Regions from separate parts of the Homo sapiens genome. Here regions 1 and 3 are each linked to region 2. The links come from fine-mapping of genetic effects on gene expression. A gene starts in region 2. Each other region holds a variant in brackets. All regions are shown on one strand. Distances are from middle to middle.

The links. PIP is the estimated chance that this variant, and not a neighbour inherited with it, causes the effect.
Region 1: its variant is fine-mapped to the expression of FBXL16 in whole blood (TOPMed, PIP above 0.99).
Region 3: its variant is fine-mapped to the expression of FBXL16 in T cells (TOPMed, PIP above 0.99).

Annotation. Positions count from the first base shown.
Region 1 is chr16:727,746-737,900 of GRCh38, reverse strand. It overlaps HAGHL (hydroxyacylglutathione hydrolase like), which reads right to left. Exons shown (of 8, transcript NM_032304.4): 2 at 9,872-9,936; 3 at 9,668-9,785; 4 at 9,477-9,585; 5 at 9,297-9,397; 6 at 9,006-9,107; 7 at 8,813-8,892; 8 at 8,186-8,613. The coding sequence ends at 8,445. It overlaps CIAO3 (cytosolic iron-sulfur assembly component 3), which reads left to right. Exons shown (of 11, transcript NM_022493.3): 3 at 572-715; 4 at 1,503-1,635; 5 at 3,030-3,164; 6 at 3,554-3,672; 7 at 4,474-4,603; 8 at 5,528-5,600; 9 at 6,199-6,336; 10 at 6,901-7,058; 11 at 7,246-8,136. The coding sequence ends at 7,484. Among named protein-coding and RNA genes, the nearest start is that of HAGHL, 5.7 kb to the right of the region's middle. RefSeq lists an enhancer at 1-212 and silencers at 9,274-9,533, 9,564-9,743, 9,754-9,863, 9,984-10,133. The variant G/A (reference allele first, on the strand shown) is at 6,144.
Region 2 is chr16:700,453-710,631 of GRCh38, reverse strand. FBXL16 (F-box and leucine rich repeat protein 16) reads left to right here and starts at 4,831. Exons shown (of 6, transcript NM_153350.4): 1 at 4,831-5,120. RefSeq lists enhancers at 3,010-3,625, 3,626-4,242, 9,746-10,179 and silencers at 3,531-3,747, 9,754-9,853.
Region 3 is chr16:674,991-685,169 of GRCh38, reverse strand. It overlaps RHBDL1 (rhomboid like 1), which reads right to left and starts at 9,499. Exons shown (of 8, transcript NM_001278720.2): 1 at 9,341-9,499; 2 at 8,673-8,834; 3 at 8,274-8,498; 4 at 8,051-8,199; 5 at 7,782-7,894; 6 at 7,611-7,711; 7 at 7,471-7,531; 8 at 6,902-7,389. The coding sequence starts at 9,379. The coding sequence ends at 7,118. It overlaps STUB1 (STIP1 homology and U-box containing protein 1), which reads right to left and starts at 4,760. Exons shown (of 7, transcript NM_005861.4): 1 at 4,486-4,760; 2 at 3,820-4,018; 3 at 3,567-3,732; 4 at 3,290-3,377; 5 at 3,094-3,150; 6 at 2,889-3,005; 7 at 2,369-2,806. The coding sequence starts at 4,644. The coding sequence ends at 2,681. It overlaps JMJD8 (jumonji domain containing 8), which reads left to right and starts at 836. Exons shown (of 9, transcript NM_001005920.4): 1 at 836-936; 2 at 1,015-1,104; 3 at 1,261-1,309; 4 at 1,389-1,485; 5 at 1,572-1,640; 6 at 1,729-1,848; 7 at 1,936-2,003; 8 at 2,083-2,217; 9 at 2,296-3,500. The coding sequence starts at 851. The coding sequence ends at 2,376. WDR24 (WD repeat domain 24) reads left to right here. Exons shown (of 9, transcript NM_032259.4): 8 at 1-178; 9 at 268-548. The coding sequence ends at 436. It also overlaps the pseudogene STUB1-DT. RefSeq lists enhancers at 407-456, 2,806-3,393, 3,394-3,981, 3,952-4,001, 9,673-10,179 and silencers at 857-1,166, 4,682-4,891, 5,172-5,281, 9,425-9,474. The variant C/A (reference allele first, on the strand shown) is at 5,714.

The DNA.
Region 1 (10,155 bases), 27 kb before region 2:
TTTGCATGTAAGAAAAGTTGCTGAGGCATGTCCCGGAGGCCCCCGACTGGAACACCTTGTTCCTGCATCTGTTTGGCGAGTCTGACGGTTGTTTCTGCCCCGCCCACCGGAGGCCAGGCTCCCAGGCTTCCTCCCTCTGCTCTCCTCTTCCTGTGCCTTCGTCCTTTCCTCCTTTGTCCTCAGCTTTCCCGCCTCCTCCTTTCAGAGCCCACCTTCGGCATTTTCCTGCCCTACAGCCCTGTGAGTGTGCACCGGGGCCAGCACCCCGTCCAGGGCCCCATGGGTGAGTGGGGTGGCTGCTGCTTTGCTGAGATACCAGTGGCAAGCCTTAGTCCTGTGATTCGGATGCACTAACCAAGTGGTACCAAGAAGCAGACTTGACGGCATTATGAAACTGTAGAGCGTGCGTGTGCATTTTTGTAATACATACCTAATTTTTAAAAATTCAGCGGCACACAAGCCCAGCCAGCAGCCATGTTGGTTGTCGGTTATGAGCTGGACTCCACTATCCTCTGTCTCCATGTCCTCGTGCAGAGGGGGCCCCTGTGCACCGGGTTCTTCTCCCTTGTAGGACGGCGGGACCCGGAGGCTGGAGAAGGCCAAGGTCTCGCTAAACGACTGCCTGGCGTGCAGCGGCTGCATCACCTCCGCAGAGACCGTGCTTATCACCCAGCAGAGCCACGAGGAGCTGAAGAAGGTTCTAGATGCTAACAAGGTAAGCAGTGGTCGGCCTGGTGACTCTGCTTTAACCTGAAATCCATCCCAGCAGCCGACAACGCGTTTTGCCAAGGGCAGCTCGTGTGGTGCCGACGTCCGTCGTGCGGGTGGCGCCTGCCTTTTTGAGGCTTGGAATCTTGGTGATTTGTCAGTGGGCTCCAGTGGTGAACGTGTCAGGCCCCAAACTTCAGGTTCTAAATATACATCAAAATGACACCCCTACTGGGCGCGGGGGCTCACGCCTGTCATACCAGCACTTTGGGAGGCTGAGCCGGGTGGATCACCTGAGGTCAGGAGTTCGAGACCACCGTGGCCAACATGGTGAAACCCCGTCTCTACTAAAAATACAAGAATTAGCCAGGTGTGGTGGCACATGCCTGTAATCCAAGCTACTAGAGAGGCTGAGGCAGGAGAATCGCTTGAACCCAGGAGACAGAGGTTGCAGTGAGCCGAGATTGCGCCATTACACACCAGCCTGGTGATAGAGTGAGACTCCATCAAAAAAAAACGATACCCTTGGCCAGGCACGGTGGTTCACGCCTGTAATCCCATCTACCCAGGAGGCTGAACCTGGGAGGCGGAGGTTGCATGCAGTGAGCTCCGATCGCACCACTGCACTCCAGCCTGGGCAACAGAGTGAGACTCTGTGTTAAAAAAAAAAAAAAGACTCTTGATGGAGCTGGCCTGCCCTCTCCACAGCTGACAGCATCTCACCGTGCGGCTCTGGCCACCAGGAATCAGCATAAGGCCAGCAGAGTAAGCAGCGTCTTCCCCTTGCTTTGCAGATGGCGGCACCCAGTCAGCAGAGGCTGGTTGTAGTTTCGGTCTCACCACAGTCTAGAGCATCGCTGGCTGCACGGTTTCAGCTGAATCCTACAGATACTGCCAGGAAATTAACCTCATTCTTTAAAAAAATAGGTAGGCTTTGAACCTGGGGTAACACTGCCGCTCCAAATCAAGGGGGCGTCTGAGTAAGCCCAGGCCCCTCGCGCCTCTGAGTCACTGACACGCTACCCAGCCCTGAACTTCAGCGCTACAGAAACTTTATTCCCTCTGTGACCTCAGCCTGAAGTTTTGATTTGACATTTGAGAGCAGGGCCTTCTCACAGAACACGTCTGCATTCTGACTGTGCACTTTCTCTAAGCTGGGGCTGACCAACTCCTTGTACTTTTTAGCTGATAATATTAAGGCACTCTCTCCGGGGCTCTGTTGGGTTCAGCCAAGGTCAGCTTCTGCTGACTTTGGTTATGTGCCTGGAGCTGGGCTTGGGGAGGATCTGGGTGTCTTGAGAGCCCCCAGCTAACTAGGCTCCAGTGCCTGGTGTCTCACTGGGAATGAAGGGGCTGGACCTCATGGTTACTGTGTGCCTTTCACAGGTAACCACCATGTCCAGTCCCTTCATTCCCAGTGAGGCAGGCCTGTGCGCCTTGTAACCAGCAGACTGCCTGTCATCCAGCTGTGTCCCAGGTCCCTCACACTGGAAACCTGGTGACACTGGCAGGTGCCCCATGGCTCCTGTCTGACCCATATCCAGTTGGTGCCTGAGCAGTGCTCTGGCACTGGGAGCCTGACCTGGTGTCCCAGGGAAAACCTGGCCTGGGGCAGCCCATGGTTCTCCAGATGGAAGGTGTGGATTTCGTCCCCACCAGAATAGGAAGCAAGTTCAAAGATTTTTACTTAGAGATGATGATGACGGGCAAGTGGGGCACAGCGAGTCCTCCGACCACGGGTTACGCGAGGGAGGAATGACAAGTCAGGCAGAGAGAGAGGGACCCACACGCGGGTGCCTCTGCTGGGTCCAGGGCACGATCAGGCAGGTTTACTGAGCAGTTCTAATGGCTGGGCTTGGAGCTGGCTGGCGTGTTCCAGGAGTCCTGCTGTGTGTGAGGGGTGGCCACTATGGTAGGTCTGCACAGTCAGGGTCCGAGGGGCCAGTCCAGCAGGCTGCGTCCAGCTGTGCCCTAGGGAGGGTCACCGGGAGCAGCGCACGTGGCAATTCCCTGGACCAGCCACGCTGAAGAGCTGGGAGGGTGGAGGACTGAGCTGCTGGGTGGCTGCCTCTGGGGTGGGAAACCAAGGCCTGGGTTCACAGGGGATGCCGAGGCAACGTGGCTTTAGGAGGTCCCCACAGTGGGGCTGGGGCTTTGGCGCAACGTGGCTTTAGGAGGTCCCCACGGTGGGGCCGGGGCTTTGGCACGGCAAGCAGGTGCGACACACGTGCCCTGGCAGCACCATGGTGGTCCACACGCCGGCGTGTGCTCGTGTGGGCGTCCCGCATGGGGTTAACCAGGCACCCACCTTCACCTTCCAGGGGTGCACTTCGTCTTCGACACCGCCTTCTCAAGGCACTTCAGCCTCCTGGAGAGCCAGCGAGAGTTTGTGCGGCGATTCCGAGGACAGGCCGACTGCAGACAGGCGCTGCCCCTGCTGGCCTCTGCCTGCCCAGGTGTGCTCATGGTGCGGGTGGTGGGAGAGTCAAGTTCAAGTGCAGTTGAAACGTGAGGTGATATGGACACAAATGACAAGGCGGGGGCATGGGGGGTGGAGACGCAAGCAGGTTTTGCGGGACGGGTTGGAAATGTTGGCACAAATGGCCTTTTCTGGAGAAGAGGCTGCCCTCCCGTGGGAGCCACGCGCAGTCACCTCAGGTCCCTAGGCGGTGTCGCCTGCACGCCGAGCTCCGCGTGGTGGTGGGGAGAACAGGAATGAGCACTCTTTAATGTCATCATGATCTCCTGTATGAGCGGGCCCGCCCCCAGAATGTCGTGCTGCTGCCTGTGGGTGCGGGGGCCGCCGTGCGCCCCCGCCAGCCCCGTGTGCCCCCTGTCACCTCAGGCTGGATCTGCTATGCCGAGAAGACTCACGGCAGCTTCATCCTCCCCCACATCAGCACCGCCCGGTCCCCGCAGCAGGTCATGGGCTCCCTGGTCAAGGACTTCTTCGCCCAGCAGCAGGTAACGGCGTTGGGCCAGCCCCAGACTCAGGCTGGGGAGCGGCCAGAAGTGACTTTGCTGGCCTCTTGCCATGAGGCTGCAGGAAACAGAGTCCTCGCTGTGCTGTGCGGCCTTCCCCAGCACACCTCCACCCTTGTTCCCTCCTGGTTCAGGCCCTTCCTCTTCTGCAGCAGAGGGCTTCGTTCTGATCCAGAGGTGCTCACTGCTCACCCAGAGGCAGCCAGGCCTGAGGCTGAGGGAGCAGGAGGCCCTGGGCAGTCCGGGCCTGGAGCCCACCCCTCCGGCCACCAGGTCCACGAGGATGCCCAGCACGACCCCCACCTGAGGCCCAGCGGGATAGAAGCCTGAAGACACTCAGCCAGCAGGGGGCGGGAGAGGGCGAGGGCGGCCCCGGTGGTGCCTGGGCCTCGAGCGCCCATGTCCCCTGCGGCACCTCTTGCCTGACTGCACGCGGATTTTCACCCGGGGCTGGAGCTGGTTGGTTCCCCCGTGACATCCGTTTCCCCGGCTGCTGTGCAGTGAGACGGCCCGAGCCGTGGGAAGGCCACTTCTCCTCCGCTGGACTTGGCTGTTAGGGAGCGCAGGCACACTGGGAATGGGTCAGTGTCATTTTCTGTCACAGCCAGGGCCCGTCCTGTCCAGGGACACATCCGCAGAGCCGGCAGGAGGCTTGCTGGGAAATGGAGTGAGGCTCACTGTCCCTCGGGGTCCGGCCTGGCTGCAGGATGGCTGAGTTCCAGGTCCCGTCTCAGCCACCTTACTGCTGGGATTGGGGAGACAAGTGTTTGTTTCTCCTTGTAGCACTTGACCCCTGACAAGATCTACCACGTCACAGTGATGCCCTGCTATGACAAAAAGCTGGAAGCCTCCAGACCCGACTTTTTCAACCAGGAGCACCAGACACGGGATGTGGACTGTGTCCTCACAACAGGTGCGGTCACGCCGTGCGGCCCTGAGCCCTCAAGCCTCCTGGTCTGATTCCTGAGCCCTGGGCACAGGTGGCGACTGCCCAGGATCCTGCCTGTGGGGGCCCTGGCTGGAGTGTGGGGGCTCGCATGCGTGCACGTACCTTCGTCTCTCCCCTTGGAGCCAGGTGGGCCCATTTGCAGCTGGCCTGTCTTGGGGACCTGCAGCCAGGTGGCGCTCAGTAATACCTCCTTGTTGGCTCTGAAATGAGTCTTTGGAGGTGGGCAGAGATTCTCGAATGCAGCCTCTTCAGCTCCCATGAGTCACCCCATTCCTGAGTCGAGCAGCCCCACAGTCTCCCAAATGTGAGGCAGAAAAGCAAACTGTGGCCGGGCATGGTGGCTCACGCCTGTAATCCCAGCACTTTGGGAGGCAGAGGTGGGTGGATCACGAGGTCAGGAGTTCAAGACCAGCCTGGCCGAGATGATGAAACCCCATGTCTACTAAAAATACGAAAATTAGCCGGGAGTAGTGGTGGTGCTCCTGTAATCCCAGCTACTCGGGAGGCTGAGGCAGGAGAGTCACTTGATCCCGGGGGGCAGAGGTCGTAGTGAGCCGAGATCGTACCATTGCACTCCAGCCTGGGCGGCAGAGTGAGACTCCGTCTCAAAAAAAAAAGAAAAGCAGACTGCCTAAGAGGATGGACAGATGGACACTGGGTGAGCAGAGTGGCCTGGCCGCTGGCACACCTCCCTGGGCAGGACCAGGCAGCCTCCAGAGGGGCTTCAGGAGTGACCGGGCCTGGCCTCCCCACCACGGGCTAGGGTGGACATTTGGGGCCTTCTGGGGCCAAAGTGCAGACTGCTGGGGATGCAGGTGGCTTGGATGTTCTCTGACTTTGTTGCTGGGATCTCCGCTAAAGAGTGTCTGCGCTGTGGCTTCTTTGCAGGAGAAGTTTTCAGGTTGCTGGAGGAAGAGGGCGTCTCCCTCCCCGACCTGGAACCAGCCCCTCTGGACAGCCTGTACGTATGTCTGCCACCAAGAACTGTTATTTTAGCTTCTAACGCTGCCTCTGAGGATAGCATCCCCCTGCTCTGGGCTTGCCTCCCCGCAGCCCATCTTGGCGTCCACAGAAGTGGCTGGATAGCCAGGCGCAGTAGCTCACGCCTGTCACCCCAGCACTTTGGGAGGCCAAGGTGGGCAGATCACCTGAGGTCAGGAGTTCGAGACCAGCTCGGCCAACATGGTGAAACCTCATCTCTACTAAAAATACAAAATTTAGCCAGACATGGTGGTAATCCATGCCAGGCCCTGTAATCCCAGCTACTTGGGAGGTTGAGGCATGAGAATTGCTTGAACCCAGGAGGCGGAGCTTGCAGTGAGCCAAGATCACGCCACTGCACTCCAGCCTGGGCGACAGAGCAAGACTCCGTCTCAAAAAAAAAAACAAGAAGTGGCTGGGCCCCTGTGATGGCTGGTGACACAGGAGCTGTTCCTCTGTGTCTGTGACTTGTCTCCCACCTGGAAATGCAAACGCTCATGTGTGAGGGACAGAGGCCCTGCTC[G/A]GGAGGTTGGCAGGCAGCAGCCCCAGCTGTGCTGAGGCCCCTCCCTCCTTGCCAGGTGCAGCGGTGCCTCTGCAGAGGAGCCCACCAGCCATCGGGGAGGGGGCTCGGGGGGCTACCTGGAGCACGTGTTCCGGCACGCGGCCCGAGAGCTCTTTGGAATCCATGTGGCTGAGGTTACCTACAAACCCCTGAGGTCAGTGGGATGGGCCAGATCTCTGGGCAGAGCGGCCACACAGCCCCCAGCCTTCCTCGGGCTGCTGCCTCCCCTGGGGTCCTCCCACAGAGGTGGGCTGGGTGGAGGGCAGCCTGCAGGGTTTGGAGGGGACCCTGGGGCCAGGCAGGGCCCTCCTGGCGGGCTCAGGGTGTGAAGGCACCTAAGCACTCCAGGCCTCAGTCGGCCCATTGTGGGGGATGGTGACCCTGAGCCCGAGAGGCCAGCATGGGCAAAGGTGATGGGTGCCTGGCGCAGGCACGCGACCACATCCCAGGAGGGAGGGCCAGGGCCTCACAGACATCCCTGGGGAGGGAGGCCTGTTTCACAGACAGCCCGAGGCTGGAGGTGAGGTCCCCTGCTGGACTCAAGGAAGTGAGCCTTCCACCCTCTCTCTCCGTTCTTGTCCTTCCCTCTGCCCAGGAGAGAGGGAGAGAGCCCTGGGAGGTACCCGGTCATCCCCTGAAGCCCAGCAGGCCTCCCCTTCCAGGCAGGCAGGAGCCTGGTGGGTGTGCCATGTAGACAAACCCCGCCTGTGCCCCCCAGGAACAAAGACTTCCAGGAGGTGACACTGGAGAAGGAGGGCCAGGTGCTGCTGCACTTCGCAATGGCGTACGGCTTCCGCAACATCCAGAACCTGGTGCAGAGGCTCAAACGAGGGCGCTGCCCCTACCACTACGTGGAGGTCATGGCCTGCCCCTCAGGTAGCTCCTGCAAGGGACAGGACACGAGGACCCCTTCTGGGAGCAGAGCTGTGGGCCACCATCCACCAGGCTGGGAGTGGGAGGAAGTGGGGCACAGAGGGGGCCCGGTCACCTCCCTGCTCCCTGGTGGTCAGGAAGCTTGGCTGGGGCGCAGGCTGTGACCCCTGTCCCGTCTGCTCTCCCATAGGCTGCCTGAACGGCGGGGGCCAGCTCCAGGCCCCAGACAGGCCCAGCAGAGAGCTCCTCCAGCACGTGGAGAGACTGTACGGCATGGTCCGGGCTGAGGCGCCCGAGGACGCGCCTGGGGTTCAGGAGCTGTACACACACTGGCTGCAGGGCACGGACTCGGAGTGTGCAGGTCGCTTGCTGCATACGCAGTACCACGCCGTGGAGAAGGCCAGCACTGGCCTGGGCATCCGGTGGTAGGGGCTGCAGGACCAGGACTCCCAGGAGGCCGTGTCCATGTGTGACAGCAGAACCACATGCCCCAAGACCCCAGGGCTTCCCCCAAAATTCTGAGTGAGCTGCAGGGTGTGCTGGGACCCGAGTAGGAGCTAGGACTAGCCAGGACCCGCAGCCGCCTCGTCACCTCCAGTTGGGTGCCTCTGGGTTCCCACTGGCTCTGCCCAGGTGGGGTGGGGTGGCCCAGGCAGCAGAAGGTTCCCTGAGGTCCCAGAGCCTGTTCCGTTGGCCCTGGGCCGAGGCCCACAGGTGCTGCCCTTGCTGCTGCTGGTCGGGCACCCAAGTGCGTGAGGGGCTTCAGCCTGTCCCGGGGTTGCCTGAGGCAGAGCAAGACGGGTTCTCACCCCTGACTTCTGGAGGCTTCCCTTGAAGCTCTGTGCAAAAGGTGGGAGACAGAGCTGGACCTGCAGGGGTGGTCCCGCCACAACCCTGCGTGTGGACCCTGGCAGGGGGGGGTGCCAGGCCCCTGGAAAGCAGGGGTTACCGTTACGAGGCTGTGGTCCGGGGCAAGCCAAGTACGAAGCAGCAGCCATCGCGGGCTGCATCATCCCCCAGCCAGGTCCCCACCAGGCCTGTCTCCCAGCGTTTGTCTAATAAACGCACCCCTCCTAAAACACGCCTACGAAAACAGCTCCTCTCCTGGCACATCTGCCAACACTGACAACGGCCTTTCAAAGCTTTATTCATAGTTCGGAGGCCCCGTGTGCCCCACTTCCCAGACACCCAGGTCTCGGCGCCCACACAGGCCCCACTGAGTGGTCCTGTGTGTCCACCCGGGAAGCACCAGGTTGCCCACCCTCCGAGGCTGGGCAGATGGCTGGCCAGGGCCTCGAAGAAGGTTCCAGAGGTGGCCCTCATGTGGGTCCAGCTGGCCGAGGTCACGAGGAGGGACGCAGGCCCCAGCCCTGTGAGGGTCTGGGTGGCTCAGTCGTGTGGGGCTGCACTCAGGAGCCCCCACTGCAGCGCAAGGAGGGCCCGCGCCTGTGGCTGCCGCGGCTCGCCCGCCTGTTCGAAGCGCGCCCGCTCCTTGCATAGCGCCTCCAGGACGTCGGCGGGGACCGCCTTGCCCGTGAACTTGCGCACCGGCTCCTCTCTGCAGGGAGGGGTGCAGTGAGGCGCAGGGCCCGCTGCCCACGCGGGAGCATGGCGCCGAGGGGTGGGCGGGCAGGCAGGCACTTAATGAGCAGCCTCCCCCAAGCCAGAGATGCTCACTCAGCCCAACACGCAGTCCCCAGATGCCTTCCTAAGGGTCCACGTAACGGTGGAGGCCCCGGGACAACAGCCATACTCACGCCACCCGCAGGAAGGGGTTGTAGAGGCGCTCCTCGCCCAGAGTCGACGGCACAGTGGGCACGTCATCCTCATCCCTCTTCTGGAGTGACCACAGGCCCCGGTCACCATTAGGCCTTGTCTGAGAGCCCCCCCCACCCCGAAGCCTGTTCCCTCCCCCCCCACCCTCTTGCCGCGGCGGGAAAGGGGCCGTGCCTTAGCCCAGGACAGCTTGGCTCTCACGTGGTCGTTGCAGGGCTCCACTTTCTGGGCAAACTCCAGGTTGCTAAGCGTGTGCTCGTGGCCGCAGAACACCTTCTGGAGGAAGAGCGCTCGGTGAGCGCGCACGCGGCCAGGAAGCGGGGAAAGTGCTTGCGCCGGGGGCCTGGCCTCCCCTGCCCGGTCTGCCCTCAGGTGGGCATTCACTCTGCACCCCTAGCACAGTGAGGGTGCGGAGCGTGGGGGCTGTGCCCACGGGAGAAGAGGGGAGGGCCCAGGCCCGCTCACCGTCTCGGGGGGCAGGGTACCCAGCTCGGCCAGGCTCTGGTACATCTGCTGGGCGCTGCCCTCCAGGCACGAGCCGCAGCCGGCCACCGACAGCGCGTCGCCTGGCGGGGGAGGGCGGGTCAGAGCAGATGGGGCGGGGCCGGCGGGAGGCGGGGTGGGCGCGCTCCGCGCTGCGGGTACCCGAGAACAGGGCGGGTGGGTCCGGGCAATCGTCCTCCCACAGGAAGTAGCTCATGTGGCCGGCGGTGTGGCCGGGCGTCAGGAGGCAACGCACGTGGATGGCCCCGAACTGCGGCGGAGGAGCAGGCGGACCTGTGAGGGCGGGTGGACCCGGGGCGCCCTCCCCGCCCCTCCCGGGAGCGCGCGCTCACCCGCAGCTCCTCGCCGTGCGCCAGCCTGCGCGTCAGCGAGAAGATGCGCTCGTCCGCGCCCAGCACCGCCAGCCCGGGACGAAGCCGCGCCAGCTCCGGGTTTCCCCGCGCGTGGTCCCTGCGGGCGGGCGGGCGGGGGCCGGGTTAGGTCGGGTTGGGACAAGGCGGCGTCCTCGTGCCTCCCCGCGCCCCGCCGGCGCTCACCAGTGATGGTGGGTGGTCAGCACAGCGGTCAGAGACACCCCCTCCCGGCCCACGATCTCCAGCAGCTGAAAGGGACGGGAGTGACGGTAACACAGACGGTCCCGGTGGCCCACTCCCTCCATATCGGGATCCGCCGCGCTCACTGCCCCAGGCCGGCCAGAGCCCCGGGGAGCGCCGGGGAGCGGGGACCCAGCGGGCGGTGACTGCGCCCAGCGCGTGCAGGGACCGCCAGGCAGCAGCGAAAGGGCGGAGGCCAGAGGTGCCGTAACTTCAGGGAGCCCCAA
Region 2 (10,179 bases):
ACTTCGAGTAAACCAGGAACCACAGAGGGTGAGCCCTGGGGGCTCCTTGTTTGCTTGAAGCTCCATCTGCCTCAGAGCCTTTGACCTGCTGCAAAGGGGAGGCGGGTAAGGCCGGCCCCACCCAGCCCATCTGCCCTGAGGGAGTTGGGGAGTTTGGACGCACCGGTGAACAGGATCCCCCAGGAAATGGGGAGGAAGCCTAGAGAGAAGGGCCAGATCGTAGGCCAAGACCCCCGCCTGTGTCTCTGTTCACTGGCAGCGGAGCGAGGAGAGAGGTGTGGGCTGACCTGAAGCCAGCGCCTCCTGTGTCCCCAGCTGAGCCCTGCACGGGATTGGCCAAATGTGCTGCTCTGCGGCCGCCCTGCTGCCCCCTCCCTGGGTGGAGCTGGGGTCTGGGACAGTGAAGATGGCTCCCACAGCTGAGGGGCACTGGGTGCCAAGAGCCTGCCAGACCCTGGGCCACCCAGAAACATGCTCTGATAGTGCAGCTGTGAGCACTGGCCTGCGTCCCCTCTACCCAGCCGACCTATGAGGCTCAGGGTGCTTGGGGGCCCATCAAGGACATAGTCCTAGCTGCCGACTCATCCAGGCAGCCTGCACAACCCCTGGCTCCCCTCCACCGGCCACCTGCCCCCCTGCACAGGCAGGATCCGGCCTCGCCCACCCACAGGCCTGCACCTCCGGGCCCACGGCAGCAAGATTCCTATCTTGGGGATGCTTTCCTCCCTTTGCCGAGAGACCCACCCCCCCACACCTTGCCTCTCTTCAAGGAGCCGAAAATGCAGCTGCCGACTGATTTGCTGTGGAGCTAAAAATAACTGCCGGGCTCCAGCCAGGGCCCAGGAAAATATCCCATTGCTAGGAGACAACCGTTGCCGGGAGACCGCCATTGCTAGGCGACGCGTGTTGCTATGGTGATGGCTGGGCCCTGAGTCATCCTTAGCCTTGATAGGGGGCGAGCCAGGCAGGGAGCAGAGCTGGGGGGCATCAGAGAAATCCCACCGCCCATGGCACTCAGGGCACCCCTAATGGCTGTGAGGTTCTCATGCCTATGGGTGCCCATTCTGGCTGTGGAGGGGTCGGGACGGCCAAACATACCCACAGCCTGCTGCTTCACATGGATGATCCTGGGTGCTCTCGGGCTGTGCTCCAGGCAGGGGGCAGGGGCAGTGTGTGGGGGGATGGTGGCGTGGCCATCTGGCCCCCGGAGCAATCACTTTGCTCTCCAGTGTGGGGATATCACCACAGGTGCAGAGCTGAAGTGAATGTGGGTCCCCTTGCAGTCCTCCAAAGTCTCAGGGCAAGATGTACCAGCAGCCTCTGGTCCTCATCCCCATGGCTCCAGAGTGCCCTCCCAGCCACCTAGATGGGAGACTCCTCAGTGCTGAGGCATCAAGGCAAGGGGTGGTCCCGGTGAAGTATGCTCCTGGTAGGGGTTCTGCAGGAGAGGGGCTCTCCAGGTGAGGGGTGCTCCAGGTGAGGGGTGCTCCAGGTGAGGGGGTGCTCCAGATGAGGGTGCTCCGGGTAACAGGGTGCTCCAGGTAACAGGGTGCTCCAGGTGACGGTTCTCCAGGTGAGAAGGTGCTCCAGATGAGGGTTTTCCAGGTGAGGGTGCCCCGGGTAACAGGGTGCTCCAGGTGAGGGTTCTCTAGGTGAGAGGATGCTCCAACTGAGGGTGCTTCAGGTGAGGGGTGCTCCAGGAAAGGAGTGCTCTGGATGAGGGTTCTCCAGGTGAGGGGTGCTCCAGGTGCCCTCCGGAGCCAAGGCACATACCGCCTCCCATATCAGTCTCCAGGACCAATGGAGGGGTGCGGGCCTGAGCGGTATCCACATCCCCCAGAGGAGATCGAAGTCTGCTGAGCAGCCCCCTTTGTCCAAGCCACTTCCCTCTGGGGTGTGAGCTGTTCTCCAAAGGTATCCTCTACAAGGGCCTCCCGCCACAGGAGGCGATCCAAACTGCTGGTGCCAGTCACCTTTCATGCTGCTGACGCATCGCTGTCTCCCTCATTCGCCAAATTTGCCATGCACCTGTGACGTACTGAGATGGAGGCTCAGTGCCCAGGGACAGGGTGGTGGGGAAGAAGACCGCACCCTGGCCCTCAGCAGGCACAGTCAGCCAATAGCTCATCAAATGCACCATCAGACACCAGGCAGACACAGGCTGAGAAAAGAAGGTCCTTGGTGCTGGGGAGGTGAGGACACGGGTCTGTGGCCCTGTCCTCCTGAGGGAGGGCACCTAGGGGAGAATACATTAGCCAAGGTCTGAAAGGCAAGTAGTCACCCAGGTACAGGTGGCAAGGGAGTGCTCCAGGCAAGGGGCCAGGAGAGGAGTGCTCCAGGCGAGAGGTGCTCTAAGGGAGGGGTGCTCCACATGAGGAAATGCTCCAGGAAGGGGTGCTCCAGGGGAGGGGTGCTGCAGGGGAGCTCCAGGTGAAGGGAGGGGTGCTCCAGGTGAGGGGTGCCCCAGGTGAAGGGTGCTCCAGGTGAAGGGAGGGGCACACCAGGTTAGGGATGGGGCACTCTCCTGGCCCCAGAAGAAGGCCAGTGTGGCTGAAGCTTCATCCTCAAGGGGCCAGGTATAGAGCGAGGCTGTGGGCCAGCCGTGCCAGGCACTCAGGGCTGTGCAGTCTTCAGCAAAGAATGAACAGGGCCCTGGGAAGAACAGGACCATGTCTGCACGGCAAAATGGCCCCGCTGCACCCTGGGGAGAAAAGGAGATGGGAGAGGGGTGGAGAGACCAATGGGGAAGTAGCTGCCACCAGCCATGGTGGAGACAGACAAAGTTGCCCGGCACAGGTGGGGTCACAGAGGTGGAGGGTAGGTGGGTCACAGCTGGTGACAGAGGTGGAGGGTAGGTGGGTCACAGCTGGTGACAGAGGTGGAGGGTAGGTGGGTCACAGCTGGTGACAGAGGTGGAGGGTAGGTGGGTCACAGCTGGTGACAGAGGTGGAGGGTAGGTGGGTCACAGCTGGTGACAGAGGTGGAGGGTAGGTGGGTCACAGCTGGTGACAGAGGTGGGGGGTAGGTGGGTCACAGCTGGTCACAGAGGTGGAGGGCAGGTGGGTCACCGCTTTGGAGGAGCACGGTTGGCCTTTCTGTGATGATCTTCCACACACTCTTCCCTGCTCAGATTCCCCACAGGCAGGGCTAGCTTCTTGGGCCTCGCCAGGGTTGCATGACCCAAATGCCTGACTCCCACGCTCACCCTATGCACTTGGGGTGTGTCCAGCCCACCCTATGCACTTGGGGTGTGTCCAGCCTGCCCTGTGCGCTTGGGGTGTGTCCGGCTCCAGCCCCAGCTGGGACTCAACACAAGCACAGCTTGTTCTCTGCCTGAGGCCCTGGCACCTGCTGTGGTGAGAGCCCCAGGCACGAGGTGAAACCCTCCTACCGGGAGCAGTCCACGCCTGGGGTGGAAGCTGCTGCCAGAGGGCCAGCCTGCCAGACCATGCACCGGAGACACCCAGATAGGTTGGACCGCCGCTCCCCTGTTGCCCCAACTGTCTTCACGGGGCTCGTCCTGTCTGCCCCACTCCGGGCACCTTCTTTGGTCAGTATCCAGGTACCGGGCAAGACTTACGCAGAAGAGCTGCTGCGCTCACCCCAGGTAGACCCAGTGGCGCCCCCACAGCAAGCACAGAACCACCCCACCCCGGGACCCAGCCAGGGTGCCGTCAGTCTGACCCTCCTTCCCGCTGACCCCAGGCCTCACACCGGCCCCTTCGGCCAGGCTTCCCATCAGGACGCTGGGAACAGCAGCTGGTTTCACTCCTATTGAGATACTCTCAGGAGCCCCATTCAGCCCTGTAGCTCTTTCCCGGTGCAAAGAACCCCTCTGCTCTCCCCACACCTGCTCCCTCCCCCGGCCCTGCTCCCAGGAGACCCCAGGATAGGGCGCCATTGGCCTCCATTCTCCTGCCCTGAGCCTGCTGGGGCGTCTGGGGTCTCCAGCGGTCCCCACCGAGTCCTCCACCTAACCTAGCACGCCCCACCCCTGCCCCGGGCTGCAGCAGCCGCCGCCGCCTCCAGCCTCCAGTTTATTCCCGAGGGAACTTGCCAGGCTCCTCGGATCTTTGCACCCCCATTCCCGAGCCATCCCTCCCTCGCGCCGTGGGGGGGTCTCAGCTCCAGTGGGGCACCCTCAGGAAGCCCCCGCCAGAAGTCACCACCGCAAGCCCTCGGGTGCTTTCACTGTCACTGTCTGAACTGATCCGTGCAGTCACTTGTTTTCGCGCTCTGCGGGTGTGCCAGGGTCTCCAATGAGGGGCTTCCGGCCGGGCACGCAGCAGGTGCGCGGGGGGTGTGAGGGCTGTGAAGGGTCCTTGCCGTGGGCTGGGCGGGAGGGTCCAGAGACGGGGGTCTGACCACCCTGTCTCCTCTGGGCCGGGTCTCGCCTTCCTCGCCTCCCCAAGTGGTGGCCAAGGGCCGGGACGCGCGGTGCCGCCCCGGTCCCCATAGGACCCCGGACCCCTGGGCCACCCGCCGGCGCCTGCTCTCCCGCCTCCCCTCGCCCTCCCTTCTGCCTCCCGCGCCCTCCCCGCCCGCCGCGCGCCGGGGTTTGTTATTGTGCGGGTGCCCGCGGCGAGCGGGGCGGGGGCGCGTGCCGGGCCTGGCGCGTGCTCGTGGACGCCGTGCCGGGAGCGCGCCGCGCGCGGGGGCCGGGGCGGGGCGGGGGCGGGGCTCGGCATTCTCGGCGCCCCCGCCCGGGCTCGCGAACCCGGATTGGCTCGCCACGCCGGGAGCGCGCGAGGGCGCGGCGTTTGGTGCCGGGCGGGGGGCGCGCGCGGCGCCGGCGGCGGCCACGGAGGAGCGCGGGGAGGGCGAGGGGAGGAGGAGGCGCCCGCCTGGTTCCCTGCAAAGCGGCCTTATTTATCTGGGCACAGCCTCAGCCTCCCCGGTGGGAGGCTTGGGGCGGCCGATCCTCTCCCACCGGGGAGCTCCTTTCCGTGCGCTGCCGAGGGGGCCCGGCCAGGACGGGACGCGGGGCGCAGGGCGCGGCCGGGCCCTGCCGGCCAGTCCAGCACCCCGGCGGCCCCCGCGCGCCGACGCCCATGCCGGGCTCCCCATGACGGGAGGTCGCCCGGCGGACAGCGTGGCATGAGCCAGGAGCCCGGGCCGAGGTAAGGTGCGCGTGCGGCCGGGCTGCGGGGCCGGGAGGGGGCCAGGCCGCACCTCCGCGGCGGCCACAATGAGGAGGGGGCGGGGTGGGGGTGGGGGCCGCGCCGCCGCCGCCCGGGAAGGGCTTACGTAACGGCAGCCCCTTCCCCACCTCCCCCGCGGCCGCTGGGCCTCGGTCCCTGCCTGGCCTTCCCGCAGCCCCGCGCCCCGGCCCCTGGCCCGGAAGAGGGCCGCTCCCCACTGGCCACTCGGCCGGGGCTGGGGGTCCGTGCCTCCTGGGACGCCGAAAGGAGGAATTGTAGGCCCCCGGCCTCCACCCCGGGCGCCTGGTCGGCTCAGAGGGCGCCCCCGGACCGAAGTGACAGGCCAGAGACCGTTAAACTGCATGGGGGTCGCGTGGATGTGCGGCCTGAGGGGCGGCCCTCCCCGGGCGGGCGGCTTCTGGACCCGGGGCCTGCGCTGAGCTACTGCCCGCGGGAGGAGGAGGGTGGGGGGAGGCTGGCACCTTCCTGGTTCTGGAGGCGGGACCGGGCCTTGGCCAAGGTTGGAGGGCCTCAGAAGGGAAACGGCACCTTCAGACCTGCTCGGGAGGGGTCCGGTGTCCTCCTGGGGATTAGGTGGGTGGAGAGCGTTCCCCACCCATCACCTCAGGAGAGAGGGCTGCGGTGGCAGCTTCAGGAACTGACGGCCCAGCGGCCACTCCAGGCCCTTCCCAGGCTCCAGGCTCTGTTCGGGCAGCCTGCCCTCCGCAGGAGGAGCAGATGGCGGAGGCCACCTCACCTGCCTCTTCCTTCAGGCCCTTCCCCCACACCCGTGCATCCGAGGGCCCAATGGCCAGGGGCAGCTCAGGCCTCCCTGGACACAGGGCCGTCTCCCAGCCCACCCCCTCTGTGGGGTGCTGGACAGCAGCCTTGGAGCAGATAGGCCTGGGTCAGGCCAGGAGACTGAAGGGTTTTCTGTCTCCCGGACCAGGGCAGAGGCCTAGTGGAACCTGGCTGGTCTGGCCAGAGGTGGACACAGGGCTGGACCTGGAGCCGCCTGGAGGGGAGGGAAATTCAAGGCCCAGCTGCAAACATCGCTGTGTGGGGGAACCCTAGGACTCACTTGCCCCACTCCCTGCCCCCTGCCACCCCAACTGCCCCTCATCTGGGGCCAGACCCTTGAGTTCAGCCCCTCCATCGACAGACTCACTGCCTCCAGCTCACACCCACTTCCGGGGCGGCTGGACGAGTCCTACCTCCCACTGATGAGAAGGACACAAACAGCTTCCTGTGTGGGAGGCACGGGGCCCTTGAACCAGCTGGACATGGACCCAGGAAGCCTTGTGTTGCTGAGAGTTAGGGATCTCCCACCCAGGTGGCACTGTTCAGCCACCCGAAGACCCCATCTCCTTGCATGTGGGCACCCACTGCTGTGCCTCCCATGACTGGATTGGCAGTGAAGGGAGCTCTGTGGGTGAGCAGGTGACTGAGCCTTCCCCACCAGTGGTGCAGGAGGAGTCAACGGCCAAACTGGCTGCAATGTGTGGGTTCAGGCCTCATTCCTTCACTGGGCAGGAAAGAGGGGTGATGGTTAGTGGCAGCTGCCTGGAGCAGTAGGCACTAGGGGCCCAGGCCTCGCCTCTGAGGGTGCTCATGCTCTTCCGAGCAGGGGCTGAGATGAGGCCTGGATCCCAGCACCCACTCCCCAGGGTGTCCAGCTTTCAAGGCTGAGCTGCCCTGGGCTTGACCATGGGCCCTCAGTCTGCTGGGGCAGCAACACGGGTTTCTCTTGAGGCCACGTGCCTGCTGCGCCATGGTGCCCCTCCTCAGAGCCCCTGGTGCACCCCCAGAAGCATCTCAAACTGGGGGCGGGAGAGGAGCTCTGCCGCTGTGCCACGTGCCAAGTGGCAGGGACGCGGGTGTGCCTGCGTCACGGGGCTGCCACGGAATGTGTCAGTCTGCACCCTGTCCCCAATCCCCAGCCACCCCAGCTGTCAGCCAGGCTCTGGGGCTGCCACTGCAGATGGAGCCCGATGTGCATTTCTCTGGCCACCAGGGCCCTGCCCAGCTCTAAGGCCCTCTGCAGGCAGGGCTCAATGGTCCCTGAGGTTCTATGAGGGCTGAGTGGTTGGTTAGGCTGTGCCCCAGTCTGGTGCTGACAGAGATGGGGGCACCAGAGATGGGGGAAGAGACCTTCAAACTGGGGGCGCTGAGGGGTGAGGAGGTTTCCCAGGCATGTGTCCAAAAGGATGTCCCAGGGGTGGGCACGCGGTGTGCAGCCTCTGCAAGGAATGCAGCGCCGTGGCAGGGACCCTGCAGGATGAGGGCAGTACTTGGAGAGACCACTAGCCCAGGGCCCAGCAGGAAGGCATCGAGACCCCATGAGGCAGAACAGGGCAGAGCGAGGACCCTGTGAGGTACACCTGGCAGGACCCAGGTAGAGGGAATCAGCCAGCCCCGGGGCTTTTGGAGCCAATCCTAGCTCTATGTAACTTCTGGAAAATCCGTCTGCAAGCTCTGCTTCCCCACTCCTAGTTAGGCAGTGTGTGAAGGAAGGACTCTGGCCGGTCAGAGGAGGGGTGCGTGTGGTGCCAGGGAGAGCGGGGCAGGAGGACCCCCTTCCCTCTCTTGGCTCAGGCCAGATGGTGGAGGACGGGCAGCCACTTCCTCAGCCCTGCAGCTCCTGAAGAGAGAGCCAGCTGAAAAGGAGATGGGCCCTCCTCATCCGAAGGCTCTGTGTATTGCAAGGCCCACCCCAGCCCTGGGGTCTTGGGAGCCCTCTCAGTGACTCAGGTACCAACCTAGTCCCAACCCCAGAGGCCACTCTCCCCGCGGACACTGGCCATGGCACGATCCGGGTTAATTTCCCGAGCTGTGCCTTCCCCGCTGACCGGCCTCTTCCTAAATTTGACCAATCCTCCATCAGCCCTCCGGGGGCCTTGGCAGCTGCACCCCTTTCTGCGTGACTGAGCTAGCGGAGCCACATTCCGCATTCATTCATTCGTTCCCTAATTCATTCATTCCGCGAACATGCAGAGGCCATGCACGTTGGTGCTGTCTGTCCTCAAGAGTCCTCAGGCCAGGAGGAGAGACACCAGGTGGACAGTGATGATAACCCATGTGATTGCAAGACCCTGGAGACGCTTTCTCAAGAGCTGGGGGTCCCGGAGCAGGAGGCAGGGGCGACCTCGCACCAGGAACTGAGGGATGGAGGAGAAGAGCTTGCAGGGCTAAGGCAGGGAAACCCTGCCAGGCAAGCAGGGGGAACGGCGTGTGCCCAGGCAGAGGAGCAGGGGAGGAGGAATGGCATGGCTGGGCTGTGGCATCAGGGCTGGGAAGGGGCCGGAGCTGAGGTCTCCGGGCTCAGTGACTTGATTCGCAGAAGAGGCAGCTCCTGCGGGGCCCCCACATGGCCGTCTGGGAATGGTCAGCCTGGATGCTGTACATGTACATGTGGGGACCCCCAGGAGCACCCAGGCCCCACCGTGCTCCCTAGGCTCACTCTGGCCACACGCTTCACACTGCGTCCCCTGGGGAGGACACAGAGGCCACGGCCACCTCTCCCCAGCAGCTCCCAGGCCAGGCTCAGGCTGCTGAGGACAAGACAGCTGAGGTGGGGCCACCTCTCTCTCTTTCCCCTGGGGTGAGCCCCGGAGCCTTGACAGGATTCCACTTCAAGCTGAGCCAGCACCACAGGGGCTGAGGCTGAGGATGGTGCAGGCATGGCCACCTTTTTAACAAGTCTCTTCCCCGTATTAGCACCCGGGCTGCTTGTCCCTAAAGGGAGAGGCAGTCCCTAGCAGCCCACGCAGGTCGTCCGAGCCCCTCTGGGTGGAACGAGGGCTCTCACAGTCGCCAAGCAGGAAAGGGGGCTCTGTGAGCCATGGGAACCGGCTCCTTGGTGACCGTCTGGCTGGGTGGGTGGGGCCGGGCCCAGGGCCAAGCAGAGGGGCCCTTGTGTGAGCCCCCAGGGACTTCTCGCTGAACGGGCAGAGAGACCCCAGTCTCCAGTTGAGCTCAGCTTTCTCCCGCAGCGCCCATGCCTGGGCCAAAGTGTGTGGCTGTTTGCATTTTTGAGCTACGGGGTGGGGGATATTCGGGCTGAGTCAGTCAAGCCGGGAGTGTGAGGAGCAGCGGGGGCCGGCAGGAACGTGGACGCGAGATTGGGGAGCAGTGGGGCTGCCTGTGCGGGGATGCAGCTCCCACCAAGCACACGGGTCGAGGGCTGACCACAGGCAGAGCAGCGCCTTCTGGCAGCGCTGCGGGTGTGGATGAGGGAAGCCAGGCCCCGGACCCATACCCAGACGGCCGCTCCTCAGCCTGTCCCCTCCCTCCTGTGGGCTCTCAAAGTGCGGCTTGGTTTCTCCATCTCGACCCTGAGGCCTGGAGGTGGGGACGGGACTGTGGGCGCCGGCAAACGTGAGCTCCCGAGCGGGGCGGGAAAGGAGCCCCGCGAATGCCTCCCCCAGCCCCGGCGCTCCACGTGCAGGCCCATGACTGGGAGCGTTTTCAACCTAAATCGGCACTGCGCCGGGATTATTCCTCCCCTGGCGCCGCCCCCGCCGCCTCCTCCGGATCCTTCCCGGCTTCTCCCCCACTCTTCGCCCCCGGGGCCCCTCCCTGCTGAGCGGGGGCTGCCGGGATTTGGGATTGCGGGGCTGCCCCGACCCCGCAGCCGTCCGCGGTGGAAGCCAGCCCGGGCCTGGCCCTGAGCGCGCGGCTGGGGCGGCCGCTGTCCATGGTGCTGGCGCGGGTGGCGCGCCGGCCGGCGGGGTCTGCGGAGGCCCAGGCGTCCCTGGCGGGGAAGGCGGCGCTTCCGGGTCTGGGGAGCGAGGGTCCCCGCTCTAGGGGCACGGAGGATATTTAGACTGGGGCGCCCGTGGGCCTGGTGCTGCCGCCTCGGGCGCCGGCATCCTGCGATATCCCCTCTCCCCGGCTCTGGGAGGGAACCGAGGCAGCCCCGCGCCAGGCCTCCCCGGACACCTGGGGCAAATTCGCTCCTCAGAGCCTCGTGTTCCTTCCCCAAACCTGAGGTAGCGACCCCTCCACCCCTAAGGGCGGCCGTGAGGTCGAATCATGT
Region 3 (10,179 bases), 25 kb after region 2:
GGTACACTTCCTACATCGACCTGCTGCAGCGCTTCCGCCTCTGGAACGTGTCCAACGAGGTGGTCAAGCTGAGCACCAGCCGCGCCGTCAGCTGCCTCAACCAGGCCTCCACCACCCTGCACGTCAACTGCAGCCACTGCAAGCGGCCCATGAGCAGCCGGGGCTGGGTCTGCGACAGGTGGGGCAGTGGGGTCGGGAGGTGGGGCAGGGGCCTGCAGGCAGCGCAGCAGCCCCCGCTGAGGCACCCTCCCTCCCGCCCGCCCCCAGGTGCCACCGCTGCGCCAGCATGTGTGCCGTCTGCCACCACGTAGTCAAGGGTCTCTTCGTGTGGTGCCAGGGCTGCAGCCACGGCGGCCACCTGCAGCACATCATGAAGTGGCTGGAAGGCAGCTCCCACTGTCCCGCAGGCTGCGGCCACCTCTGCGAGTACTCCTGACGGGGCATCTGCTGGGCTTGCCCGGGCGGCCGCGTGCAGAACCCCGCCTGGTCTTGTGCCCGAGACGGGCGGAGGCTGGAACTTGAGACCTCAATAAAGGAAGTAGAGCCGCTGTCGGCACTGCGTGTCACCCCATAGCGCGGCGGGCTCGCCGTAGGCCCGCGGGGCAGCTGGCGGGCGGGGGCTTTCGGCGGGGTTGTCGCCATGGTAACCGGCGGCGCCCATAGTCGCTCTCGGGGCGGCCTTCCCAGTGCCTCCCGTAGAGGCCTCTTCCGGGGCGGGCCAAAGGAGGTCACTTCCGGGGTCCGTCCCGGTTCCCGGCCGTTGCCACGACGACGAAGCTGCCGGCCAATGGCTGGCGGATGGGCCCAAGGTTCCCGGCGTGCAGCGCGGCTGCCTGAGGGCGGCAGGCTCATGGCGCCGGCGTCGCGGTTGCTCGCGCTCTGGGCGCTGGCGGCTGTGGCTCTACCCGGCTCCGGGGCGGAGGGCGACGGCGGGTGGTGAGCGGCCCGGGAGGGGCCGGGCGGTGGGGTCACGTGCGGCGGGCGGGGCGCGGGCTGACCCAGCTGTGCCCGCAGGCGCCCGGGCGGGCCGGGGGCCGTGGCGGAGGAGGAGCGCTGCACGGTGGAGCGTCGGGCCGACCTCACCTACGCGGAGTTCGTGCAGCAGTACGTGCGCCCCTGATCGCGGAGGTCGCGTCCTGTTCACCGGCCCGTCTGCCCCGACCGCCCAAGGCCGCCTTCCCCTGACCTCGCGCGCACGCGTGGGGCTGGGGCGGCGAGGCTGGCGGTCCGGCCTGGCCGCGACTCTGCCCTTCTTTCCAGGTACGCCTTCGTCAGGCCCGTCATCCTGCAGGGACTCACGGACAACTCGGTGAGCGCGTGCCCGTCCGTCCCCGGCCACTCTCGCCCGTGCTGGGCCCGGCCACTAAGTCCCCTCCCCGCCCCCGCAGAGGTTCCGGGCCCTGTGCTCCCGCGACAGGTTGCTGGCTTCGTTTGGGGACAGAGTGGTCCGGCTGAGCACCGCCAACACCTACTCCTACCACAAAGGTACGCGGCCTCACCCCTGGGGCCCGCCCATTTGCCAACACCGGGGCGGCTGGACCAGACGGTCCTGACCCGTCTCTTTCCTGCAGTGGACTTGCCCTTCCAGGAGTATGTGGAGCAGCTGCTGCACCCCCAGGACCCCACCTCCCTGGGCAATGGTGAGGCAGCCCTAGGCGGCGGTAGGGGGTGGGGACGCTTGGAGTCTCCAGGTGCCAGGATCCCTGTCCCCGCCGTCTCTGTTGGCAGACACCCTGTACTTCTTCGGGGACAACAACTTCACCGAGTGGGCCTCTCTCTTTCGGCACTACTCCCCACCCCCATTTGGCCTGCTGGGAACCGCTCCAGCTTACAGCTTTGGAATCGCAGGTGGGTGCTTCTTGGGACTGGGAAGGACTGAGGCTTCTGTCGGTGAGTACAAAATGGGTTGGTCACCAGGTGCTCATAACCCCACAGGAGCTGGCTCGGGGGTGCCCTTCCACTGGCATGGACCCGGGTACTCAGAAGTGATCTACGGTCGTAAGGTCAGCACGGGGTGGGGGTTGAGGCTTGGGACTCGCTGACCAAAACGGGCAAGGGTGACACTGCTGCTCATGCCCCCAGCGCTGGTTCCTTTACCCACCTGAGAAGACGCCAGAGTTCCACCCCAACAAGACCACGCTGGCCTGGCTCCGGGACACATACCCAGCCCTGCCACCGTCTGCACGGCCCCTGGAGTGTACCATCCGGGCTGGTGAGGTCAGTGGCTGGCAGGAGAGGGCCAGGCCAGGCTAGAGGCCCGCAGCTAATCTCTGCTGCACCCCCTTCCTCCACCAGGTGCTGTACTTCCCCGACCGCTGGTGGCATGCTACGCTCAACCTTGACACCAGCGTCTTCATCTCCACCTTCCTCGGCTAGCCAAAACAGCTGGCAGGACTGCCGGTCACACACCAGCACGTCCCACCTCGTGCTCACGGATTTTATTACACAGATAGTGGCGGCAATGGCCTCAGCCCAGCCCACCCTCACCTGCTTTTCCAGCCCACAAAGGGGGACGATCACGGCCCAGCAAAAGCGATGCTGAGAGGGGAAACAGTCCAGAGTCCAACAGCAGAACTTGGGGGAAGCGGTCGGGGTGGCCAGGAACATAAACTATGTATAGGGGCCGGGGGCTTCTGCCCAGGGCTCCCCTGGACCAGGACGCCAGGTAGGGCAGGGAACCTCAGTAGTCCTCCACCCAGCCATTCTCAGAGATGAATGCGTCAATAACCTCCTTCATAGCCAAGTTGGGGATGAGCTGTTCCTGGGTCAGGGGGCTCCGGGTCACGGGGTCAAAATGACCCACACGCTGCAGTGACAAGAAGGGCAGAGGGCAGTCATGGGGCCCAGGACCATGCCACTGGCCCTGCTCCCCCAGCCGCAGGCCTCACCTGCAGGTGCTCCTCGATGTCCTTGCGGTCGTAGGTGATGCCACTGGGCGTGATGCACGGCTCCCGCATCAGCTCAAAGCTGATCTTGCCACACAGGTAGTCGGGGATGTCTCGCTTCTGTGGCACAGGGGCACACGGTCAGAGGCTGAAAAGGGGCACTGCACGAGCACCTGCCAGCCATCGGCAGCAAGCGACACACACTCACCTTCCTCTTCTCATCCACCTGAGAAAAAAGCTCGTCCATGTCCGCCATGTACTTGTCCTGTGAAGAGTTGAGTGCTGTGCTTGGGGGAGACACCCCACCTCCCTCCTCCATGGGGCACAGACCCAACACAAGGCGGGGATGCTCCCACGCCACGTGCACACACACAGACCCACATGTGGGTGGGGGGCACCCTCACGTGCTTGGCCTCAATGCAGGCCTGCTGGGCCCGGACGTGGCTGTCGTCCTCATCACCCTCGTGGTTTCGCTGGCACTCTTCCAGCTCCCTGGGGGTTGACCAGGAGCCGGTCAGAGATGGACCTGGCCAGATGTCTGACCACACCCCAATCTCAGAGCTAACATCCACACTTCCCCACATTTCCTGCTTGCCAGTAAAGCCTTCGATAAACGCTTGTGTCGGGAGTCGGTGATTCAGAATTATCCCAAGACAGGGCGGCCTGGGGTGAGGGTCCCACCTCTCACGCTCCGCGGCAATGAGCCTGGAGAGGTAGGAGTGCAGCTCGCTCTCCTGGTGGATGCGCCGCTCCTCAATGCTGTTCCAGCGCTTCTTCTTCGCGATTCGAAGAGCGCTGGGGATGTCGTCCCCGAAGTTCAGCCGCTGCTCCTTGGCCAGGCTGTAAGCTGGGGAACGGGGGCTTCACGTCACTCTCTGGCCAGTCCACCCGCCTGGCCCCAGAGGCCCCACAACCGGGCAGCTTGTCAGCCAACCTCGCTGCAGATTGGCGATGGCCTCATCATAGCTCTCCATCTCCAGCTGGCACTGCCCCAGGAAGAAGTGCGCCTTCACAGACTGCCCGTCCAGCTCCAGGGCGCGCCGGCAGTCGGCCAGGGCCTGCTCGTGCTGCTGCATCTTCAGGTAGCACAAGGCCCGGTTGGTGTAATACACGGCCACCAGCGGGTTCCGGGTCTAGGGACCAAGGCCGGGCCAGCCGCATGAGGGCGTAGGCTCAGCGTGCCCACTCTGACCCACGGCCCGTCCCAGCTTCTGCGCTCTGGCTAGAATCAAGAAACTAGGTTTCTCAGTTGTCAAAGCCCCTGGGTCCAAGGATCTGTGCACAGTGGAGTACTGGCTGAGCCTATCCGCTTGATTCCACTTGGTTTTGTAAAGTTTTCCAAATCTTTGGAGAGTCCGGGCTTAGGACCTGGGGTCCTCAAGGGTCGAGGGCCCCTGCCCTCCCCCCACCCGGCCGGCCTCCATCCAGCATCGCACCCTCGTTCTCCGGCACCCGGCGCTGGGCTCGAGAACCACGGCTGGGCTTTGGGAGCCGAGGACACGCCCCGAAGAGGAGCCAGACCCTCGGTGGGGCCGGCCGGGCCCGGGCCCGGCCCTCCCCGGTGCCACCGCCGCCGCCCTCCCCGCGCGGGCGCACTCACGATCGCGCGGCCGTAGCAGGCCGCCGCCTCCGGGTACTTTCGGCCCACGAACAGACGATTGCCCTGCTCCTTGAGCTCCTGCGCGCTCGGGCTCTTCTCGGGGCTTCCGCCGCCAGCGCCCAGCCGTGCGCCGCCCTCCTTCTCCTCCTTGCCCTTCATGGCGCCGCGCGGCACGGCCTGGGCTCCGCTCCCAAGCTCCGCGCCTCGCGGCCCAGCGCCCGCAGCCGGAGCCCCGCAGCCCGAGCCCGCGATCCGCTCGGGCCCGGCCCAGCTCCGCCGCCGGAACTTCCGGCCGGGGGCGGGACCAGCGGGGACGCACGCGTGGGGGCGAGTGGGGCCGCGCGTGCGCCCAACCAGCCTGGACGGGGACACTGGGCCCGCGACGTCGGGGGCTGGGAGGAACGCTCCAGTTCCCTGTCCCCGCGCTCTTAAGGGTGGGCGTTCGCGTAGGCCCTGGCCTGCCCTGCTGAGGTCTCTTCGGAACCCGCCTCGGCGGCGGCCGCCACACACATTCGACTTTCCCAGTGAGATGCCTCACTTGCTTCGCTGAGGGCGCGCTCCCGCAACAGCCTGTCCCGACCACCTGGGGTTCCGCCCCTGTCCCAACGCGCAGAGACCCCTCCCCCGGCAGCCGGCCCCATCCAGAGGCCCCGCCCCCAGCAGCCGGCCCCATCCGCAGAGGCCCCGCCCCCAGCAGCCGCCCAATCCAGAGGCCCCGCCCCCAGCCGCCGGCCCCATCAGCAGAGGCCCCGCCCCCAGCCCCATCCGCAGAGGCCCCGCCCCCAGCAACCGCCCAATCCAGAGGCCCCGCCCCCAGCACCCGGCCCCATCAGCAGAGGCCCCGCCCCCAGCCGCCGCCTCCCGCCCCTGCGCGTGAACGTAGCGGCTTCCCACGCGCTGTGGGGTGTGAGGACCCCAGTCGCTGGGCTGCCATTCTGGAGCGCCACGAGAGGTGCTACGGGCGAGCGCGAGCCCCCGAGGGCGGCTGGAAGCCCCGGACTGTTGGTAGAGTGGAAGGGGATAGAGATCGGTGGGGCGAGCGTCCTCCGTGGCCAGTCCTCCCCTCACCGCCCTTCCTCAGGTATCGGGAAGAGTTGCCAGCGGCCATCAGGGGCAGAGCAGAGAAGCATGTGACAGGGAGCTGGAGCGGCTGCTGGCCTGGCAGCTTGACTGTGAAGGGCGGCCCGCCCCGAGGGCAGGGCCTCCGTAGCGCGGGTCTTCATTGGGG[C/A]GTGGCATCGGCGGGGCGGGTGTCTCCAGTGGGGGCGGGGCCTCCCTGGTGGGTCCAGCACCCCAGGCACCCTGACCTGGCCTCCCACAGAGGGGCGCTTCCGGCCACGTCTGCAGCAGCTGGTGGCCACCAATCCCCCTGAGCTGGTTGTGCACTGTTCGACCGCCACCTTCTGCCTCCTGCCAGATGTGGGGGCTGCAGTCACCGAGCTGTGTGCCCTCTGCGGTGTGGGCCCACCACAGCCTCGGGTGAGTTGGGTGGGCACGACTTGGGTACATAGGCGTTCTTGTCTGTGAAGCGGGCAGTCTGGGCCCTTGCGTGTCGCTAGGAGCAGGAACCATAGGGCCCTGGGCTGCTGGGAGCAGGGTCTCCCAGAGCTTGTCCTGATGGGGTGTGTCTGGCTGCTTCTCCTCGCTGTTCACAGCAGTCCTGGCAGCTGGAGCTCCAGAGATGGAGGCCTTCATGTCAGATGAGGCGGTGGCCACAGTGCCCGGCTGGCCGGCCCCACAGTACACCCTCAGGTACTACCTGCTGTACCTGGGCCAGGTTCAAGAGCGGGCCACAGCTCTGAGCCAAGGGGAATGAACTGTGTGTGGGCAGGTTGGGGTGGCCCGTGCCCCTGGGCCTGAGTCCGTGTGCCCCTCCCTAGCCAGTGCCTCAGGACAGTGGACTCCCTACCTAGTGGAGACAGCACTGTGGACCTGGGCTGTGGGGCAGAGGCTGTGCCCAGACCTGCTGCCCAACCTTGGCCCCAGCCTGGCCACCCACGAGGATGCTAGGCCAGCCAAGAAGCATGGAACCCAGGCCGAGTAAACTTGGCCATGGCCCAGGCCTGCTCACCTGCCACAGAACCTCAGGCCTCCGGGTCTCACTGGACGGCAGGGAGGCTGAAGAGGAGGCTGGCCACTACGGGAGCTCAATAAACACTTCCCAAACTCACGCCTGATCACACACCCGGCCTGACCACACACCTGGCCTGACCACACGCCCGGCCCCCAGCCATCCCGCGTGCCCCCAGCTCCCACAGACACAGCACCTGTGGCCCAGGAACAACTCCCACGCCTGACCCCAGGTGCAGAGATGCACAAGGAGGGAAGTCCAGGCCCCCGTGGTGGGGAGGGCCGTCGCGGTCTGTGCAGCAGGTGTGGGGGCCCTGACGAGTCTCCAGAGCCCGGGACAGCCCCCTGGTGCTGTGTAAAATATTTATTAATTATCCAAAAAGGCTCAGACCGCAAGTCCTGGGAGTGGGGGGTGGGTGGCTGGGACAGGGCCTCCTTTGAGGCCACCCACACCCAAGGGGCACAGCAGCCCTGAGACGTCCGTTCACAAAGGGCAGACGTGAAGGCCCCTGGTGGGCGGCCACCACATGCCCGAGCCCTGGCCTGTGCAGCCTCAGGTAGCCGGTCAGGGCGGTGGGGGGATGTGGGCGCCCAGCAGGTCGTAGGCGAAGACGTTCCAGAAGACGGCGAAGAGCAGGAAGGTGCCGTAGGCCAGCAGCACCACCCACCAGCCGCACTGGTCCCGCAGGCGCTCCTCGTAGCTCCGCAGGATGGTCAGGCCCATGCTCACCCCCACCACCGCGCCTGCCAGGTGCGCCATGAAGCTGGGCTGTGGGCCCGAGGCGGGCAGCGGCGGGGAGAAGCGCAGCCACACGGCCCGGCCCACCTCGGAGCTCACTGCAGAGGGACGCGGCAGGTGGGAGGTGCCCTGGCTGCAGGCTGAGAGGCCCCCCGGCCCTCCCCCCGGCCCCTACTCACTGCACACCAAGGCCAGCACCATCCTCAGCAACTTGTAGGGACATCTCATCCCAGCCCAGTTCTATGGGTGTGTGCAGACGAGAAGTGGTGAGGCTCACCTGGGGCCCCTCCCCACGCCCCCCACCGGGCAGGCCCGTTACCATGACAACGTTGGCCAGGTGTGCCGAGCACAGGGCGTAGACCCCGCCGGAGCCTCCCACCACCGGGGCCCGCATGTCGGTGATGGAGACGGTTAGGGAGCCTGTGTGAGCAAGCGGCGGGTGAGGGTGCAGCCGGCCAGGGCAGGGGGCGGGGGTGCGCGCCTGCCTCACCTGCCAGCACGCCTGCCAGGTAGAGCAGGCTGATGCGGAGCAGGCCGTGCACCATCTCCAGGGGCACCCCGATCATCAGCTGCAGGAGGGCGTTGAACCCCAGCTGCTCCAGCCTGGCCACAGGGAAGCAAACGGGTACGAAGGGTGGGGTCAGCCATCCGGCCCCACCCCCAGCCGTCACCTCAAGTTGCCGCACCTGCCTTGCGGCTAAGCCTTTCTGATGTAATGGCAGGTTGGGGCGGGGCTCACCGGGCAGCAGTGCTACTCACCCAACGTGCATGAACATGTAGGTGAGGAAGCGCCAGGCGCGGGCACGGTGCCCGGGGTGGTACACAAGGGGGCTCTTCATGTACTCGGGGTGGTAGGTCTGCAGCACCCACTTGTTGAGGCGGGCCCCGTAACACAGGAACACGATGATCTGGGGACACGAGTGTTAGGCTGGTCATGGCCAGGAGCGCGGGAGGCTCCCGGGGCAGCGGCCGGGGGGCCCACCTGGGCAAGAGTGACCGAGGCCATGAACACGGGGGGTGGGCAGCTGCGGTGACGGTAGAAGTACCAGCGGCGGTCCACCTCACAAGGCAGGATCTCGTAGGCCACGTAACGCACAAACCGCTTGTAGACACCTAGGCCTGGCTCATCCAGCGGCCCGTCCCGGGGCAGTGCCCGCTGTCCGTTAGCAATGGCCCGCTTGAAACTGCTGGAGCGCTTGCTGCTGATCTGGGGGCAGGGGCCTGAGTGTGGGCCACGGACCTCCCCATGGCACCCCTGCCTGTGAGGCTCACCCAGCTCCCCGCATCCACAAGCCCCCCACCCACCGCCGTGAGGAGCTGCCTGCCCGCCTCCTCTGGCCAGGACACCGTGCCCCTGCCGCCTGCCCACCGTGGCACTGACCAGGTCCACCAGCTCCTGGTAGCAGACCTGGCCCTGCTCGTTGCTCTGAGCCAGGGCCACCAGCATGTCCAGCTTGGCCGGGTCCAGGGGCAGCTCATGGCTGTGCACCAGGCCAGTGAAGGTGTCCGCACCGATGAAGCCTGTGTTCTCGGGGTCCAGCTGCTGCAGTGAGGAGCCGCCAGCCAAGGCCTGAGTGCGGGCCCGACCCCTGGACCAAAGGGCTGGGCCAGGCTGGCTGGGAGCATCAGGCTCAGGCTCCCAGCACTTTTGGGACAGGGGCCCCGTGCCTGTCTGTTCCCTGGGACCCTGCTTGATCCCAGGAGCTGGCAGGGCACTGGTGCCTGGGTCCCAGTCCTCCAGCTCCTCAGTTGTTCCCCCGTCTTCCACCCTACCCATCCTGGAAAGCGAGGGCCAAGGTCCAAGACCAGCCAGCTGCCCGCCCTCCCTCCCTCCCTCCCTCCCTCCCCCCGACTCTCCCTTCTCCAGCCAGGAGCTCTGGTCCAGTCAGTCCTCTCCTGGGGTCCCAGACACACGGACCAAGGTCGTGGAGGGATGAGGTAGGTACCGAGCGGGGCTTTCGGGGAGCTCGGTCCCGCACAAGCTCAGCTCAGCGGCAGGAGGGCCGCATTGGGGGCGGTGCCAGCTCCCCAGACCACCCCCCGACGCACCTGCTCCTGGATGAGCTGCAGCAGCGAGCTCCTGTCCATAGAGCCTGGCCGGGGGCCGGGGTCCGGGGTCGGCGGCCGCGGCCGGGAGGGGCTGCTCTGCGGACGACTCCGCTCCGCCCCAGCCGGCCCGCTCCGCCCGCTCCGCTCGGCGCCGCGCTTGGGCCGCGTCACCGAGTCGCCCGCCTGCCCGCCCCTGCCGCACACGCCGCCACGCGCGGCCAAGACACGCGCGCACCCTGCACGCGGACGCACACCCCGGACAGGAACCGCCTCCAGCTAGCACCGCGTCTCAGCGCCGGCCCCCACCCCCGCTCTGGCGCAGCTCCAGCACACTGGACTACCTCCACGGCAGCCGCTGGTAAATGGAGTCACGGGGATGGGGGGCACCTAAAACCCCCCATGCAAGACCGTTCGCCCTCTCACAGCCTTCCCGGGCTCAGGCCTGTGAGGATGCCACCTCTTCCAGGAAGCCTTCCCTGACCACTGCTTGCTCCCCCTCCAGGCTGACCCAGTACTCCCTGCGGTTCATGTTGCCACCGGCTGGAGCTCCCTGCTTGCAGCAGACACACCCCCTCCCCCCGCAACCCCCCACCGAGCGCAGCAGCAAGGAAGTCCCTCGTCCCGCATGGCCACTACAGCCGCCTCTTAGGAGGAGGAAGACGCTGCTGCAGCCGCCTTGGCTCTGACGACCAAGCCCAGCCCACTCGTCCACACCCTGGGCTGGAGGCCCCTGACCACTCTTGCAACTCCATGCAGGACAGCAAAACCTCCCGCCCTAAGGCGGCGCCAGGGCTGGGCACAAGGGGCATTCCAACACAGAGCAGAACCCCCAGGGGGCA